Regions from separate parts of the Homo sapiens genome. Here region 2 is linked to region 1. The links come from fine-mapping of genetic effects on gene expression. Tissue or cell type: monocytes. Region 1 holds a variant in brackets; the other region holds the start of a gene. All regions are shown on one strand. Distances are between the middles of the regions.

Region 1 (8,351 bases):
CCAATCTCTGGAATCAGTCAGCCCTAGATATAAATCCTTACTCTTTCACTTACCACCTCTGTGACTTTGGTGAAGTCACTTAATCTCTCCATGATTCAGTCATCTTATCTTAAAAATGGCAATTGCAAGAGTACTTCTCTTAAAGAGGTAAATGATTGAATGATGATATATGTAAAGCACTTAGCACAATGCTTAGTACATAGTAAGTACTCAGTGAATAGTAGCTGTTATTAAAAAGTAAGGGTGGGCCAGGCACGGTGGCTCATGCCTGTAATCCCAGCACTTTGGGAGGCCGAGGCGGGTGAATCACGAGGTCAGGAGTTTGAGACCAGCCTGGCCAACATGGTGAAACCCTGTCTCTACAAAAGATACAAAAAAAAAAAAAAAAATAGCCGGGCATGGTGGCACGCACCTGTAATCCCAGCTACTCGGGAGGCTGAGGCAGGAGAATCGCTTGACCCCAGGAGGTGGAGGTTGCAGTGAGCCAAGATTGTGCCATTGCACTCCAGCCTGAGCGACAGGGCAAGACTCTGTCTCAAAAAAAAAAAAAAAGGAGAGGCTTCTAACAATCCCCAAAGTCTCTGCTACAAGCCCATAGTATAGGTTTGGACTAGGTAGCTAAATCTGGATCCCTTTTCTGGGTTAGGTATGCTGTTTCCATAGCATTCTGGGTAATGTTTTCTTTACTTTTTTGTCCCCACTACTGTCCCCTGACCCCCCACCCCCAAGTCCCTAGACTAACGCAGGGACTGTCTCATTTAATTTCTATTTCCACAGCTCCTGGCTCAATGCGTGGCACATGGAACACAGAGTAAACATTGATTGAACTGAAACCAACAATCCAAGTCACCGTTGGCATTCTCAATCTTGCTTTCATTTCTGGGGTAGGATTTGAATGAGGAATGATGGCTCCATACCCAAAAGAGAGGTTTCCTATCTTATAATTTGTGGTAACCATCACCAGATGTATTATTGTCCCTACTTAAAGGGTTCATTATAAAGTGCAAATTCCTGAAATCAATGTAATTTACTTTGATATAAAAGTAGAGGAGGCCTCTTGGGCTAGACCCATGTGTGGCTCCTCTATTTAAGGATGACTTTTTATTATAGGGACCCCAAGAGAATGATGACCTTCCTTGTTTTAGCTTCAACATCCCTGCATTCTCTTGAAGAATTCCTTGTTGCCTCGGTCACTATTGAAATTATCTATGCCCTTCTTGAACATATTTTTGTTTTCCAGTCTATACCACCTATTTGGGTAACAAGTTACCTGAGTTGTCTACCTGTGTACACAGTAGGCTTTAGAACGAATTTTATCATTATATTTTCTAAGCTTTAACCCATTTATGCCTAGTGTCCCATTATTGGAACGCTAAGCTTGTGGGAGTTATTTATATCCTCCTGCTCAAGGTCATCGCCAAGGTCTGATTTTTCACAAAAAAATTTGCAACCTCTGGCATCAATGGGTTAATGGATACCTTTTTGAACTAGTACTATATTTTATAAAAGTGAACAAGTACATGTGCACACTATATGTATTATTATTGCATTATGGAGCCACAGACCTCTCTGAACGGTATCTAAACCAACCACAACAACACTTTATTCAACTTAATCAGATTTTTAAGTTTCAGTTATTTTGCCAAACTGAAGTTGAAATTAGGTTGCCCAAGGGCTTTGTATTGCCAAACTGGCTGGTTAGTTGGAAGTACCCCCAGATAGTTGTACTTTTATGTCCCCATGGAACATTCATGGTCTCTTGATCAATAGAAGCAAATTTATTATGAGTTTCCCTTCCTTAAAAGGTATTTCCTTTGGTCTCTAAAGTTTGAATTAACTAGATTTTAGTGTAACCTTGCTCTTCTATGGTCAAGGGTTTATAATCGTTATACATACCTAAAGGACCATTTCACTTGTTTGCCCAAAGTGTCTAGTTCAGTGTTCTGCATGCAATGAATTCCTTTTAAGTAAGTGCCTTTTTTGGGTCTGGTTTTCTACTAGTAGTCACAGTTCAAAAGGAAAAGGGGAAAGTGCAAATTTGTTAACACTATTTCTGACTTACGTGATAACAGGGCAAAAGGGGGAGGGGTGTTATAAAAATACTCTGTGTATTGCTCTGTGTAGTCCTAGTTAGGAGGCCTGGAGAAAAAGAATGGGACTTCTTCCTCATTACAGGTTTGATTCAAACCCTTGTGTGGCTCAGAATGCCCTTGTGTTAAGGAGCAGGATTAGGCCTCTCCCCATATCAGGGGAATGGAAAAAGCCACTGTTGCACAGGGGTCCATGGTAGTGTACTAATGAGCTGCCATTTCCCAACTAGCTTATCTTCTCCTTGGTGTAGTTTAAGGCAATTTGGGATACCTTGATCCTACCTCCCTCTCTCCCTTTTTCTTCCATCTCTCTGTTTCTTCTCTTGCGCAGCTTCCACCCGCCCATCTCTGCCATCGTTGCCTGCCTACATAGTCCTTAAGCTGGCAACCACAGGCTGCTGGCCATTAGGGAGATGCATGGCTACCTCATACATATGCAGACAATGGAAAGGTTCCATAATTGAATTTAGGGAGAGAACAAGAGAGCATGAGTGAGAACAAGGGTAATACAGAGTTCTTTTTTCTCCCAAAACATACCTGAAAGTCATAAGCAGAATATGGTGGCAGGTGAGGAGGGCTATGGTAGTAGGTATTGTAGGATGCCACTTGGGGATGAGCATAGTAAGAAACTGTTGGATGGGTATTTTCAACAGAACAGTTCAGTGCTGGGAGAGTTGGGTTCTGTAGAAAAACACAAATTAGAAACAACATAAACAGTCATCACTAGGAGAATGGTTAAATAAACTTAGTACATCTATACTATGGAATACCATGCAGCTATTGATAAACAATGATGTGGACCTATTTAGAGAAGGTTGTCCAGGATATATTTTTATGTTTTAAAAGCCATTATGTTACATTAATATAACATGATCCCAATTTATGTTTTAAAAAAAGACCCCCAAAATTATACATGTATGTATGTTTGTAAATGCAAAGAAATTAACCTGGAAGGATGCATAGCAAACTATTAACTGTGGTTTATCTCTGGGGAGCAGAGTAGAATTAGGAGGTATATAGGGATTCTTAACTTTCTACTATATATGTCAAAATGTTTACAACTAATTTGTATTGTGTCATTTTCCCCAAACTTTTTAACTTGAAAAATTTAAACCTATAGAAAAGTTGAAATCATTTGTGTGATTTTTAAAAACAAGAATTAAAAAGAAAAAATAAGACTCAAAATGCAAAACATCAAATAGAGAAGGCCGAACCAGCTAGTGTTCTTGCTGTGACAGAGTGTGTTCAATCACAAAGAATTTGTAAAAGTTGTAAGGATTCTTAGAGATCCCAACCTTGCTAAGGGGGTCTCCTGAAGACATGAAGGGTATTGATTTCTCATCAGCCCTGTAGAGTAGAGGCAAAATCCTAGCAGTGCACAGAAGCCATGAAAGACCAAGAAAAATATATTGATCCCCCCACCTTTTTTTTTTTTGCAAATAAAACGATGCAGACATAATTTTATATCCTTTTCACAACATGGTGGTGTGTGTAGCCCTTCAAGGGTTAAAGCTAACCTTGTCCAGAATGGAGGCCCTGCTCTCATCAGAGCCAAAGCACTGCTAAAGGAAGTTACCACTACTCATTAGTTCCCAAGTAGGACTGTGCTTTGTGCCACATGGATCAAGGTGTGGGGTAAATGATTTTTCCATCTTCTATGTCATTGATACCTCCCCCATTCATGTGTATAATTGAGAGCTGTCTGAAAAATCAATGTGTCTTCCTTTTGGAACATAGCTACAGCACATTAACAGAGAAGCAGAAGCTTCCTCTCAAGTGATGAAAATGTGTAGGCAGGCTTTGGCAGTCACAAAGGCAACCATGTTAGGGTGTTGGCAGGGGGAAACTCCCTTCCAGCAAGTTTCAACACAGTTCTGTTGCTCTCTTCCTTGGAGTGGGTTACTGTTTACATCTCTAGGAGGTTTGAAGAGCTACAAACCTCAGTCATAATACAGCTCACAGACAGCCAGATAAATGTTTGTCAGCCTCTTTAATGTGTGAAAGAGGGCTGAGATCTTGACCATTCCAAGGGCTGGCTTGCTTTACATTTACTCAGAAATGCCCTTACCTCTCCCCCAGAATTCTTTAAAGAAATTCTGTCTCTGGGGAAGTACCAGAAATCATGTTCCCTTGGCATACTGTCAATTAAAAACACACCCTCCAGCTCT[C/T]GCAAAATGAAACCAGCTCTTCTATCTAAATAAATTAAGCCTAACTGTGGAGAAACAATCATACAATGTAAACTATATAAAAGTTTTTGTGTGTTCAGCAAGGCCAAGGGTCTAGACAATATTTGAAAGGAAGTTGACTATTTAGAGAAGGCAGCACAGAAGAAACATGAGAGTAAGATTAAATGGGTATAGGAAAGTCTCTGAAGAGAAGACAGTCAGGGGTAGAGGATATAGAGAAAATGGACAAGCCAGCAAGAGAAGGAAGAAGAGGAAATGGGGAATGGAGTGAAGACTTAGTCAGGGATGGGGCAAAAGAGATGGGCCAAAATAGTGGTCTGGTTATATTTTAAATCAATAAATCTGATTTTACAATAAATTTGGGCCCTGTTTCTATTTGTGTGCACGTATAGGAGTGTGTGTTTGTGTGTGTGTGTGTGTATGTGTATTTCTGTTAGAATTCTGGGGCTTACGTTGTGAGACGCCCGCCCTGCCCCCCCATTATTGATCAGTAGCATTCCGAGCTCCAGTAACACAAAAGGTTACTAGGTAGCACAGCAAATGGTGAAAGCAATCTTGCCTGGACAAAACTGAGTCTATTCTGAGACAATGATTGTGGACTTTGGAAAGAATGCTACTTTTTTTCCCTCTCCAGTTTACTCTAAACCAGCGATACCAATTAGGAGAAAATGGAAAGATATATTCACTTTTTAAAAATTCATCTCAAATCCTCATATCTTTGGTCAACAAGCACTTCTTCAAACATTTCTTTAAGATCTTTTTCACCAAGCACCTCTTGTCAGGGTTCCTTTCAGGATCCCACAACTTTGGAAATGGTGGTTCCTAGCTGATTCCATTGAAGACTGCCAGCTCACAGCCCTCGGCTCCTGTCCTCACTCTCTGCAAACGGCTTTCATCAGCCAGCACCCCCGGGCCTCCCTGCAGACCCCGGGGACTCTACTCAGGGAGAGGCACATCACAAGTCACCAACCACACTTGGATGTAGGCCAAGGATTGTACTTAGGCTCACCTGAATGATGTTCCTGGACTTTTTACACCATGGTCTTATTTTAATAGAGTGATCTAGGCAATGATTCCTCCTTGGTATCCTTATCTGTGCCCCCACTGGTTCTCTAATCTCATGAATCAAAGATCTTCTCCCCAGATCTTTGCTTTCATTTTTTTTCTGCCCTGGTCCTTGATAGAGTTCCCGGGATTCACATTTGATAATGCTCGGTACTTCCCTTGCTCTCCTTCCGTACTGTCAAAGAAGCTCCCAACAGGTGGAAACAACTTGCTTTTAATTTTTTAATTAAATCAACTAAACAAAGGAGGTAATATATGTTAAAACACTCATAGAACCAGAAAGGGCTACCCAAATGTTAGTCAGGGGCAGCTGGGATGAAATAGAAAGAGCAAAGGCTCTGGCATTTGGCAAATCTGGGCTCCAGTCCCAGTTCTGCTACTCAGCTCTGGGCAAGTCACTTGACCCCTCTTGGCCTGTTTCCTCACCTGTTAAACAGAGACAGTAATACCTACCTCACAAAGTAGTAATAGTGAAGATTAACTGTGCAAAAGCACTTTGCAGAGGGTTAGGGGCCATTATTGCCGCTATCAAGACAGACCATCAGCAAACCCATTTTTTCCTCAGGAGATCAAAGATAACAGTGAAATTAAGAACGCAGAAACAAATCTATATATCTGCAGTTAATTGATTTTTGACAAGGTTGCTAGGATCATAAAGTAGGGAAAGAGCAGTGTCTTCAACAGATGTGCTGGGAAAACTGGATATCCACATGAAAAAGAATGAAACTGAGCCCCTAACTTATACTAGATATAAAAATTAAATCAAAATGTTTCAAAGCCCTAAATGTAACAGCTAAAACTATAAAATTCTTAGGCAAAAATGTGGAAATCATGACCTTGAGCTTGGCAATAGATTCTTAGATATAACACTAAAAGCACAAGCAACAAAAGAAAAGATAGATAAATGACACTTCATCAAAATTAAAAACTTTTGTGCTTCAAAGGCCATTATCAAGAAAGTGAAAAGACAACTCACAGCATGGGAGGAAGTACTTGCAAATCACATATTTGATAATGCTCTAGTATCCGCTATTTATAAAGAACTCTTACAACTCAACAACAACAAAACAGATTTAAAAATGGGCAGGATTCTTGGTCAGTGGCCAGGTCTCAGCTATAGCAGGGGAGTGGAGGGTGTGGGATGCTGGGGGTGCCCAGCTCTGAAGCTCAGTGTGGGGCCCAAGACTGAGGCCCCCAGCCCTTACAGCTGCTCTGTGGGGAGCCCTGTCTGCACCTAGGGCCCTGAGCATTTGCTTAGTCACCTGGCTTGTTGAGGCAGGGGGTCCCCAGGCCGGAATCCATGGAGGGCTCTGGGCACCTCTCTCAGTACTGAGGGTGCCTCTGGGGAGCATGAGGACCCTGCAGCCCAGGCCTTGTCCTTAGGGTATGGGAAACTGAAGGTCCCATTGACTGAGGTTGGCTTTTACGCACTTGATGCACTGATACGGTTTGGATTTGTGTCCCCACCCAAGTCTCCTCTTGAACTGTAATCCCTGTAATCCCCAGGTGTTGAGGGAGAGACCTGGTGGGAGGTGATTGAATCGTGGGGGTGGTTCCTCCATGCTGCTGTTCTGATGATAGTGAATGAGTTCTCACGAGATCTGATGCTTTTATAAGGGGCTCTTCCCCCTTTGCTTCCTTCACATGCACTCTCACCTGTTGCCATGTAAGATGTGCCTGCTTCTCCTTCTGCCATGATTGTAAGTTTCCTGAGGCCTTCTCAGTCATGCAGAGCTGAGTCAATTAAACCTCTCTTCTTTATAAATTACCCAGTCTTGGGCTATTTTTTTTTTTTTTTTTTTGAGACGCAGTCTCACTCTATTGCCCAGGCTGGAGTGCAATGGCACGATCTCGGCTCACTGCAACCTCCACCTCCCAGGTTCAAGTGATTCTCCTGCCTCAGCCTCCCGAGTAGCTGGGATTACAGGCATGCACCACCATGCCCGGCTAATTTTTGTATTTTTAGTAGAGACAGCGTTTCACCATGTTGGCCAGGCTAGTTTCAAACTCCTGACCTCGTGATCTGCCCACCTCGGCCTCCTAAAGGGCTGGGATTACAGGTGTGAGCCACTGCACCCGGCCGGGCAGTTCTTTATAGCAGTGTGAGAATGGACTAATACATGCACTTTACCTGGGTTATCACATCAGCCCTCACAAGTCCACAGGTAGGTGCTACTAGTGCTGTTGTTTACAGGCTGCAGAAAATTTCAACGCTACTTTTGAAGATCAACATTAGGTAAACAAATTTGCAAGGAATATGAGTAGAATCACAGAGCTGAAGGAAGAAACAGAAGTTAAAAGGAAACAACTCCACAATTTAGAAGTTGTTTGCAATGACATCATGCTTGCAGATGATGACTGCTTAATGATACCTTATCAAATTGGTGATGTTTTCATTAGCCATTCTCAAGATGAAACACAAGAAATGTTAGAAGAAGCAAAGAAAAATTGGTAAGAAGAAACTGATGCCTTAGAATCCAGAGTGGTATCAATTCAGTGAGTGTTAGTAGATTTGAAACTTCAGTTATATACAAAATTTGGGGGTAACATAAACCTTAAAGCTAATGAAAATTAAACATTTTATAATACTTTAAAATTTTGTTTAACAATCTTGAATATTGTTTGGAAAATAAAAAAATCTGCAAAAACTTGATAGATATTTCTCCAAAGAAGATATACATACAAATTGCACACAAACATATAAAAAGATGCCCAACATCACTGGTCAGCAGGGAAGTACAAATCAAAACCACAACAAGATACCACTTTGTGCCCACTAGAATGTTTATAATTTTTTTTGAGAAAGTGTTGGTGAGGATGTGGAGAAATTGGAACCCTCACACACTGCAGGTAGGAACGTAAAATGACACAGCTGCTGTGGAAAACAGTTTGGCAGCTCCTCAAAAAGTTAAACATAGAATTACCAAATGACCCAGCAATTCCACCCATAGGTGGAAAAAGAATTGGAAGCAGGTAATCAAACAAGTACTTGTAAGTGATTGTTCATGAA
Region 2 (8,000 bases), 41 kb after region 1:
TTGGATACACCACGGATATCTTTGTGATATGGAAGTGTCTCAACACCTTACCCAGAAAACATGTAACCTGACAGACTAAATTGGAGAAGTGTGTGTGCATGCATGGTCTTTTTAATTTTGGTTTGTTTGTTTGTTTGTTTCATTTGCCTGCTCCTTCCCCACCAGCTGGCCTTTAATCTTATTCACAGCTCTTGGGTCTTCTTTGCAAATATCACTCTAACTTTTAAAAGCGCAGGAAGAGCCAGGTCAGAAAAGTGACTCAGCAAACCACATAGTGTCATTTGAAAATCTTTTTTCCTGCTTTAGAACCTGAATTGAAAATTCAGTCACTTGAGCAACCCAGGCAAATATCCCACAGCCCCACAGGGGCCTTGACTCCAGATAGGATTTGCTTTGGATAAAATTCCTAAGAAAACTCTCTGATCACCAGGTCGAATATCTAATCTCTGTCCCCTCACGAGCGTCCTTCCCTGTCACCACTTATTTTATAAGGACCATAATTGTGTAACATGAAATTATTTCTAGTTGCACTTGGGGAATTGACTGTTTTAAGAAAACCCCCTCCCAGGGTGACTCGTTTTGAAAATGAAGAATCACCCCTCAATTTATCTTTAGTGTCAATTCGACTCAATAAAATTCACATCTACTTAGAGCAAGATATACCCATTTTCTGAAGGTGTGGCCCAGGCTCCTAAAAGGCAGTTTATTGTGTCTGCTTAGGACATTTTCCTGGTGGTTGTTTTATTTTAGAAGGGAGAAGTACAGCCGTGTTCTTATTCTGGTACAATTTGGGGCTTGCCTTAGATGTTTCTGTAAACACAGGACCATCTTATTCTGATTTTGTTTAGTAAAGTGACACGTAAAAAAACTCAGGCACCAGGAGGTACTTAAATAAAGCAGCAGGTATATGAAAATCATGCCTATTACGATTTATACCTAGTGTTTGATACCTAATAAACAATCGGTACTTGTTGAATAAACAAGAGGCAACATCTCAGAATTGTTTCCCTTTTAATCAAGAAGGATGTGGGAGGAATTGTGTGAATAAATATGGGCTAGTCTCATAGAATTGATTTTTTAATGTAGGGTACACCTGAGGGTTCCCTCAAATTAAAAGCCTTCTGGCTAACTAGTGTGAAAACTACAATATCTCTCACTACTCTGTCTCCTTGGCACCCAGTATATTTCTGCTTAAACAACAACCACCTCTGCAACCAACAGCAGTGAGAGAGTCTGAAATCTTTTCATTGGCCTTGCCTGCCCCTCCTCAGCAGCCTCCCTGCAGAACTACTGCAGCCCTCCCTCTCTGCAGTGCCCCACCTCCACCCCAGATTCCTGATGACCAGGATGCTTAGCTCTAGAAGCACCCAATTATTTGCTATCTCCACCCTTCCAAAAACAACCAGCTTTTCTCTCATCCGGGTATTCCCCCTGGTCAGAGCCCCCATCTGCATTGCGGTCTTTGAACCTGGGTGCCTCCCTTCCTTTGAAACATGCTCAAAATTCCCCTCCTCCAAAAAGTTTTTCTTGATCAAAATTAATCACTTATTCATGTCCCTAAATTCCCAGGTACCTTACTCAATAAGTATATTAATTGTAACTGGTACCATTACAATTGTAACCGTGGGTCTGGTCCACAACCCATATGATATCTGCCAGTCCCAGGATTGTGTATCTGAGGGAACCAAGATGTGAGTTGCTAGAAGGTAGGATGCTGTCTCTGTTACTTTGTTTTACCTTGCACACGTTCTTGATTATCCTCTCCCAAGAGAGTAGATAAGGTGTATAATCTTTATTGGGCACAGAAAAGTTGGGAACCCAGTATCCTGTCCTGTACACGGTGTTGTTGATGCCTGGCTAGTTCTCTGGGTTGATCTTTTGAACCGATTAGGATTTGCTTACCTGAGTCAGCTTTGCCACACAGGGTGGGTCCCCGGATATCCCAGCCTTGAGTATCCCTAGAAACAAGTGGCTGCCCACACAAGGGCCTCAAGACCCTGCCAATCTCCCAAACATTTCCTTAAAGGCGCTGAAATCCATCCCTCCCCACTTTAGACAGTTCTCTGAATGGAGAACATCCGAGGCCGCCCGCGAATTACAAATGTGTTATTTGGGAGGAAGGAATGCCCTACTGTAGTAGAGGTGCCTTTGCGCCTGGGGGCGGTGTTGCCAAAAGGGAGAAGGGGGTTGCTGGGAGGGGATGGGGGGACACTGGAGTCAAATTACCATCTTCTTAATTGCAAAGCGCCTGCTCCACTCTGAGCCTTGGACGCACTGCTCTATTCCCAGGCAGCCAGCAAGCGTAGAGTGCAGGCACCTTGGTGCAGTGTGTCTGCGTGTTTTAAATTTTATTGTTTTGGTTGCGGTTGTGTCTTGACAATAAAGGGAGTCCCCTCAGAAATGCTGCCCTTGGAGGCTGAAACACTAACCTACCTACCCACTGTCCTCTTCCCCCCACGCAAGGGAAGGTGGTGTTGCCAGAGCTAAGTGGGAGTAGCTCCTAAGTAGCCTAGACGCTGATTCAGGCCCGGACTGTGCGGGACCAGGGCCAGGGAACTCCGGGGAGACTCCCCTGTCCAAACTGTGGAAACCCAGCGTTAGCACTGGACTCAGGAATTTGCCAGTGCCGTCGGTCTGCGGACTTCAAAAAGTGGAATGCGTGGCGCCGGCTCCGCTTCTATCTGGGATTTATGATTCCTTTCCCGCAGTGTGGAGACTGGGCTGGGCGAAGCCCACTCAGCTGTTTGTTGCGCAGACCTTTCGAGAAACACAAGATCGCTGAGGGCCCCTGGGAGCCCAAGAAAGAAAGCTCTTCATCTTGTTCCCCAACCCACAGAGCAGTGCGCCAAGTAGCGACTCTTTAAGCCCTGGGCCACCAACCAGCCCACTCCCCGAAGGCAGACGGGCCCGGGGCGCTGTGGCTTGATTTGCAGGTGGTTAGGTGGTTGTCGTCCGCAGCGGGAATGGACGCTGCGGAACCCCAGCACTCTTCCACTCTGCCCTCCCTCGCGAAGCGCAACAGCTTGGCGTCGGGGAGCCAGGGCTGCGTTGTTGGCGCCACAGCTGGCCAAGGTAAGCAGTGCATTCCCACCTCTCTGTCTCTCTCTCTCTCGCTCTCGCTGTCGCTCTCTCTCGCTCTCGCGCTCTCTCTCTCTCCCTCTCCCTCTGTATGTGTGTGCGCGTGGTGTGTGTGTTGGAGAAAGAGTGCGCGCGCGCGAGCTGGGAGTAAGGGGGAGTCTGGTACTGCTGGGCTCGGGATTCGGACCAAGTCCTTGGCCTCATTTGTACCCCGTTGTAAATAACTACGCCCTTAAAAATGAAAAAGCAAATTCTTATACTGAATATGCAAAACCATTGAGGATACGGATCTTTCCACCATCCAGGAGATAACACTTTCTGGGGCCCCTCCGGTGAACGAGTTTTGTTGACACTGAGTCTTCTGCGGGCAGTAGGGAGATTATATAGGGGGTTCGATCTTCTCCCTGCCCCCTCCACTCGAGATGTTCCCGCAAATTCATCGGAGAAGACCTGAGCAGACTGATGGCAGGAACTGCGGGACAGAGGGATTTTGCAGAATGTAAAGTATGTTGGAAAGAGAGAATTCGATTTGATTGAAGTGTATCCGAGGCGAATTTTAAAAGATTAGGTGGGATCATGATTTTACAATCCCCTCCCGCTCTCCAGGGCTCCAAATTAATTTCTCCGCCCAGTGAAATCACAGGGCTTGGGAAGGTGCCTAACAGCTGAGGGGGACTGGGTTTGTTTTTTTTTGTAACTACCAAAAAGCAGCTTCGAGGGGCAGCCAAGTTGGTGCCCGAAGGTAGCTGTCCCCCAGTTTCTATAAGGAAAGGAGTCGAAGGGTGCCCCTCCCCCTCCATTCCGCCCTGCGAGGAAAAGCGCGACTTCAGAAGATGCGCGGGCTCGCGCTGGATGTTTCTTTCTCGCGCTCTCACTCCTGCCCCTGACTCCCTTTTCACACTCATGCACATTCCGTGCATTTGGAGCAGAGTAACAATCAAATTCAAAGAATGTTGATCCCGCCGCTGCAGAGGGCAGGGCTGGGCTGTCTTGAGTGATTCCTCAGGAATTCCCCTCCCCTCATCCCCCCCTTTCTTCTCACCCCCGCCCATCCCCCAGAGTTGCGCAACCCGCCCCCCCCCCCCAATCAGCGAGGTGCAAGTCAGGCCCCCACCCAACTGCATCTCTAAATTTCAGGGCAGCTTCAAGAGAGTTGGGAGGGGGCGAGGACCCTGCTTCTAATTGTCGTTAGTCGTGAGCTCTTAGAAGTGACCAGGACTTTGCAAAGAGGGAGTGTCGAATGGAAAGCGAAGGCGCAGGTTGCAGGGAAGTGTTTTGATCCTCAGATTGCTGGGATTTACCACCGACTGCAAGTCTGTAGACACACGCACACAAACAGGCACACACCCGCACTCCGGGGCAGAGATACTCCGACGCAAGCTTGGCGCTCCGATCTCCGCACGTCGCTCCCGCTGCAGCCAGGCCGCTCCCCTGGGACTCTGGTCCACCACCCAGACGCTGGGGCGCGAAGACCACCCCATCCATGCCCCGTTTCCCGCTCTCCGGCTTTTGGGGCAGCTGGGGCGTTCACAGTCCAGAGGCCAGGGCACTCAACCCCTGCTGCCGCCGCCCGAAGGAAGGGCCGCTAGACTTACCCATGGAATCGGGCAGGGACATGTCGCTGGACCGCTGCTGAGTCAGGGACTGATGCATGGTGAAAACTGCCCGGTTGCCCCAGTCCCCGAAGCTGCTTCAAGCGCCCCCGGCTCTGGGCGCCCCGCAGAGCATCCTACTCCGCGGTTGCCTCTCTCGGTCCTTCCGAGAGCTGAGAGACACTGCCTCTGGTTGCGAGCTGCAGCCCAAGTGCCGCCTCCCCCTCCCTTCCACTCTTCTCCCTCCCTCCTCTTCTGCCTCCCTCTGCTCTGGGAGGCAGCAGCATTGGCGGTCCGTGCAGCCGCGTGCGCTTGCGCAAGACCCCCCCCCTCCTCCCTCCCCCTCAGTCTCCCCATCCTAGTTATCCACCTCCCAGCCTTCCAAGCCAGACAGGGAGCAGTTTTAGCCCCTTGGGGCCAGGGCTGCGCAGAGAAAGAGGGGGAGGCTTCAGTATGAAGCCAACCAACCTTCTCTATAGTTGGACAGGGTCTTGGGTAATTATCCTGTTCTAGGATTTATAACTGGGGAGGGGGTCAGAGTCAGAGGTTCAGAGCTGAGGAACACACACACACACACACACACACACACACACACTTGAGCAGGTCTGGTCTTAGTGCTTCCAGAATGACATAATGGAGCTGGAGATGATCCAGAGAAGGGCCACTCTATAATCAAAGGGATGGTGTGTGTGGGGCGGGGGGAGGGTGGTGGCTGACATATGAAGATAGATTAAACAAACGCAGACTCTTTAGTCTAGAACGATGAAGGCTGGGAAGTGATGTGACCAGAGTGTATAAAATTATGCAGAGACGGAGAGAAGGAGCACAGCCTTATTCACCAGACCTGAGAATTCTAGAACCAACAGCCCCCAATCTTTAGCTAGAAAATTCAGCTAAAGTATAACTCTGCACCAGAACCCCAGTTTGTACTGTTCAAGTGCTTTTATAACAAGGATCTCATTTTATCATCATAGCAGCCATGCAAGGGAGGAAGAGGAGTTATCAATAACCCCATTATGCAGAGGAGGAAACTGAATCTCAGAGAAGGGAAGAAAATATCCTGTGCCCACTCAGCTAGTAAGTGGCAGAAGTGAGAGCTAGAACCTAGATCTGTTGGACTCCAAGGTGAGTGTTCTTGCTATGGCGACTGAAAAGAACTATTATTCTCTATAGCAAATGGAAAACCTAAGGAATTCATTAGCTCCAAAAGATGCAGCAAGATGAAAATGCAAGTAGCTTTGGAAAGAGTGAAAGTAAAGTCATGGCTGACAGATCCACTGTGGATTACTAAGGGAAACTGGGGATGAGGTGGGAATGTCATTGATCTTGGAAGACAGCCAAATCCTTCTCGAACCTATCCTTTTGGACCCCATTAGGATATTGGGCTTGAAGCACCTTGTGGTTGGACCAAAAGGTGGTTTGAATGTTCTCAAAACAACTGCAGATCAGGATGAGGCCTCCTTGGAGTGCCCCCAAGACATCTATCTGGTGGCCAGGGGAGGTGGAGGGTGAGGAAGCGGGTAACAGTGGACTCCACCTCCCTCTGGGAACAGCCCTGGAAGCCTAACATAGCTAAGAGAATATACCTATTTGGAGGTGCCCATACTGTCCCATTGAGGAGCTCCCAGGCTCTGCTTGCCAGGTCTCCTTCCAACCACCTCCTTCTGATGGTTGCTGCAATCCTTTCTCCATGTTCCCCGAAAAACCCAAACCAAATCAAGTATAAAACTATTCTAAGAGTCAATGGGATGAAGAAGAGTACTTGGCTCTTTCCAGATCTGCCTTGCTAATCTACTGTAAAGCTTTGTTTTTCTTATCCAGGAAATGGGACTGAAGGCCCTTGCCCTTTCCCATCTTCTGAAGGAAGAAAATATGTTTCTTGAAGATTAAAAAGGAAGCCCTTTGTAAAGAACTTGGGCACCCCAGGGGCCACGTTGAATGCTGTGTCAGGTATTATTAGCAACCCTACACTATACATGTGGTTTAGAAATCTGTGATATATGTCCTAGATAGAGACAAGATGCCTACTATTGTAGATGTGTGTGTCTTAAGCCTGCTTAGCTTGTGTCAGGGTCTCTATAAGCTCCACAAAGGCAGAGAGAAATCCTGTATTTATACTTCTGCAATGATTGTCTTTGAGTCCTGTTTACTTATCTCTTTCTCCTCTCATTCTAAATATCTCATACTTAATGTGGAGGACTCCTGCAACCAGCACTGATTTCTCAGGAGTGCTTGCTAATTAACATATTTCGTTTCTGTGAAAGTAGCCTGAAAGAAAAGAGGTTTTTATACAGGCTCTAAAGACTATATGACACCTTCTTTAGAGATTCTTGGCTCCCCTATAGCAATCACACAGCAAGAGATCCCTAAAGAAGCCAAATAGAAACTTGTTACCATGCTGGTTTTGATGGACAGATTGAGGGCTTTTCAATTCAGAGAGAAACACACTACCCACCAAATGATGCAGAGGGCATATGTAATTTGACCTTTATAATCCCAAAGACACAAACTAGTGAGGTACCTTTAATGGGAGTGAGGTTTGCTTTCTCAACATCTGTATTCCTGAATCCTGCTTGAAATTGAACATTATTTTATAAAGTACTAGAGGAGCTGGCTATTTAAAAGAACTGCATATGGTATGTTTCTTTTGTGCTGTCTCTTGGGGTGCCTTGTGGGACTTGGAGCACAGCACGCACTCAGTCAAGTTAAAAATGACTTTGAGACCAGTAGCAGTGACAATAGCAGCAGCTGCAGCAGCTTGGAGAGTAGTAGCAGTCTTCTCCCCAGAGATGGTGTATTTGTCTGGAGAGAGGATCGGGAAAAGGGGAGGGACTAGAATGGGAACTGGGGGGAAAACCCCCTACATTTTAACTAAGCCCAGTACATACACCTCTTTTCCTCCAAAAAAAAGTTTATTTTAACTCAAATTGAACAGGATGATTAAAAAGCAAGAGGCAATGTTTCCTGGGCTCCATTCTGATTTTCTTCATGTCAAAACACATGTGGAGTTTATACATAAATAGGTTTATAATAAAACTTACCAATAGGCAAGCCATCTAGATGAAGAAACAGGTCTTTCATGCAAGTGAAGGCTACTATAAAACTGCTTGGTTAGCTTTTGATAAAAAAAAGAAATTATTAAAATGCCTTAAAATAAATCCTTTTCATAGCAAGCTTAATCAAGCATACAGTGTTGCCCTAGGTTGCAAACTGCTTTATAGCATCAGGAAATGTTTACCAATGGGGCTGCAGCCTACTTCTCTCCATCTTCTTCAAACCAGTGATGAGCGCCCTCCCCAGAAGCCTTCAGACCAGTAGAAAAATGCCAGA

What was found. PIP is the estimated chance that this variant, and not a neighbour inherited with it, causes the effect.
Region 2: TMEM255A starts here. The variant in region 1 is fine-mapped to the expression of TMEM255A in monocytes (TOPMed, PIP above 0.99). The same link has a PIP of 0.9 or more in esophagus mucosa.

What each region holds. Positions count from the first base shown.
Region 1 is chrX:120,265,617-120,273,967 of GRCh38, forward strand. TMEM255A (transmembrane protein 255A) reads right to left here. Exons shown (of 9, transcript NM_001104544.3): 8 at 2,628-2,771. It also overlaps the pseudogene PFDN4P3. Among named protein-coding and RNA genes, the nearest start is that of ZBTB33, 19 kb to the left of the region's middle. The variant C/T (reference allele first, on the strand shown) is at 4,259.
Region 2 is chrX:120,306,579-120,314,578 of GRCh38, forward strand. TMEM255A (transmembrane protein 255A) reads right to left here and starts at 4,883. Exons shown (of 9, transcript NM_001104544.3): 1 at 4,674-4,883. The coding sequence starts at 4,731. RefSeq lists an enhancer at 2,850-2,899.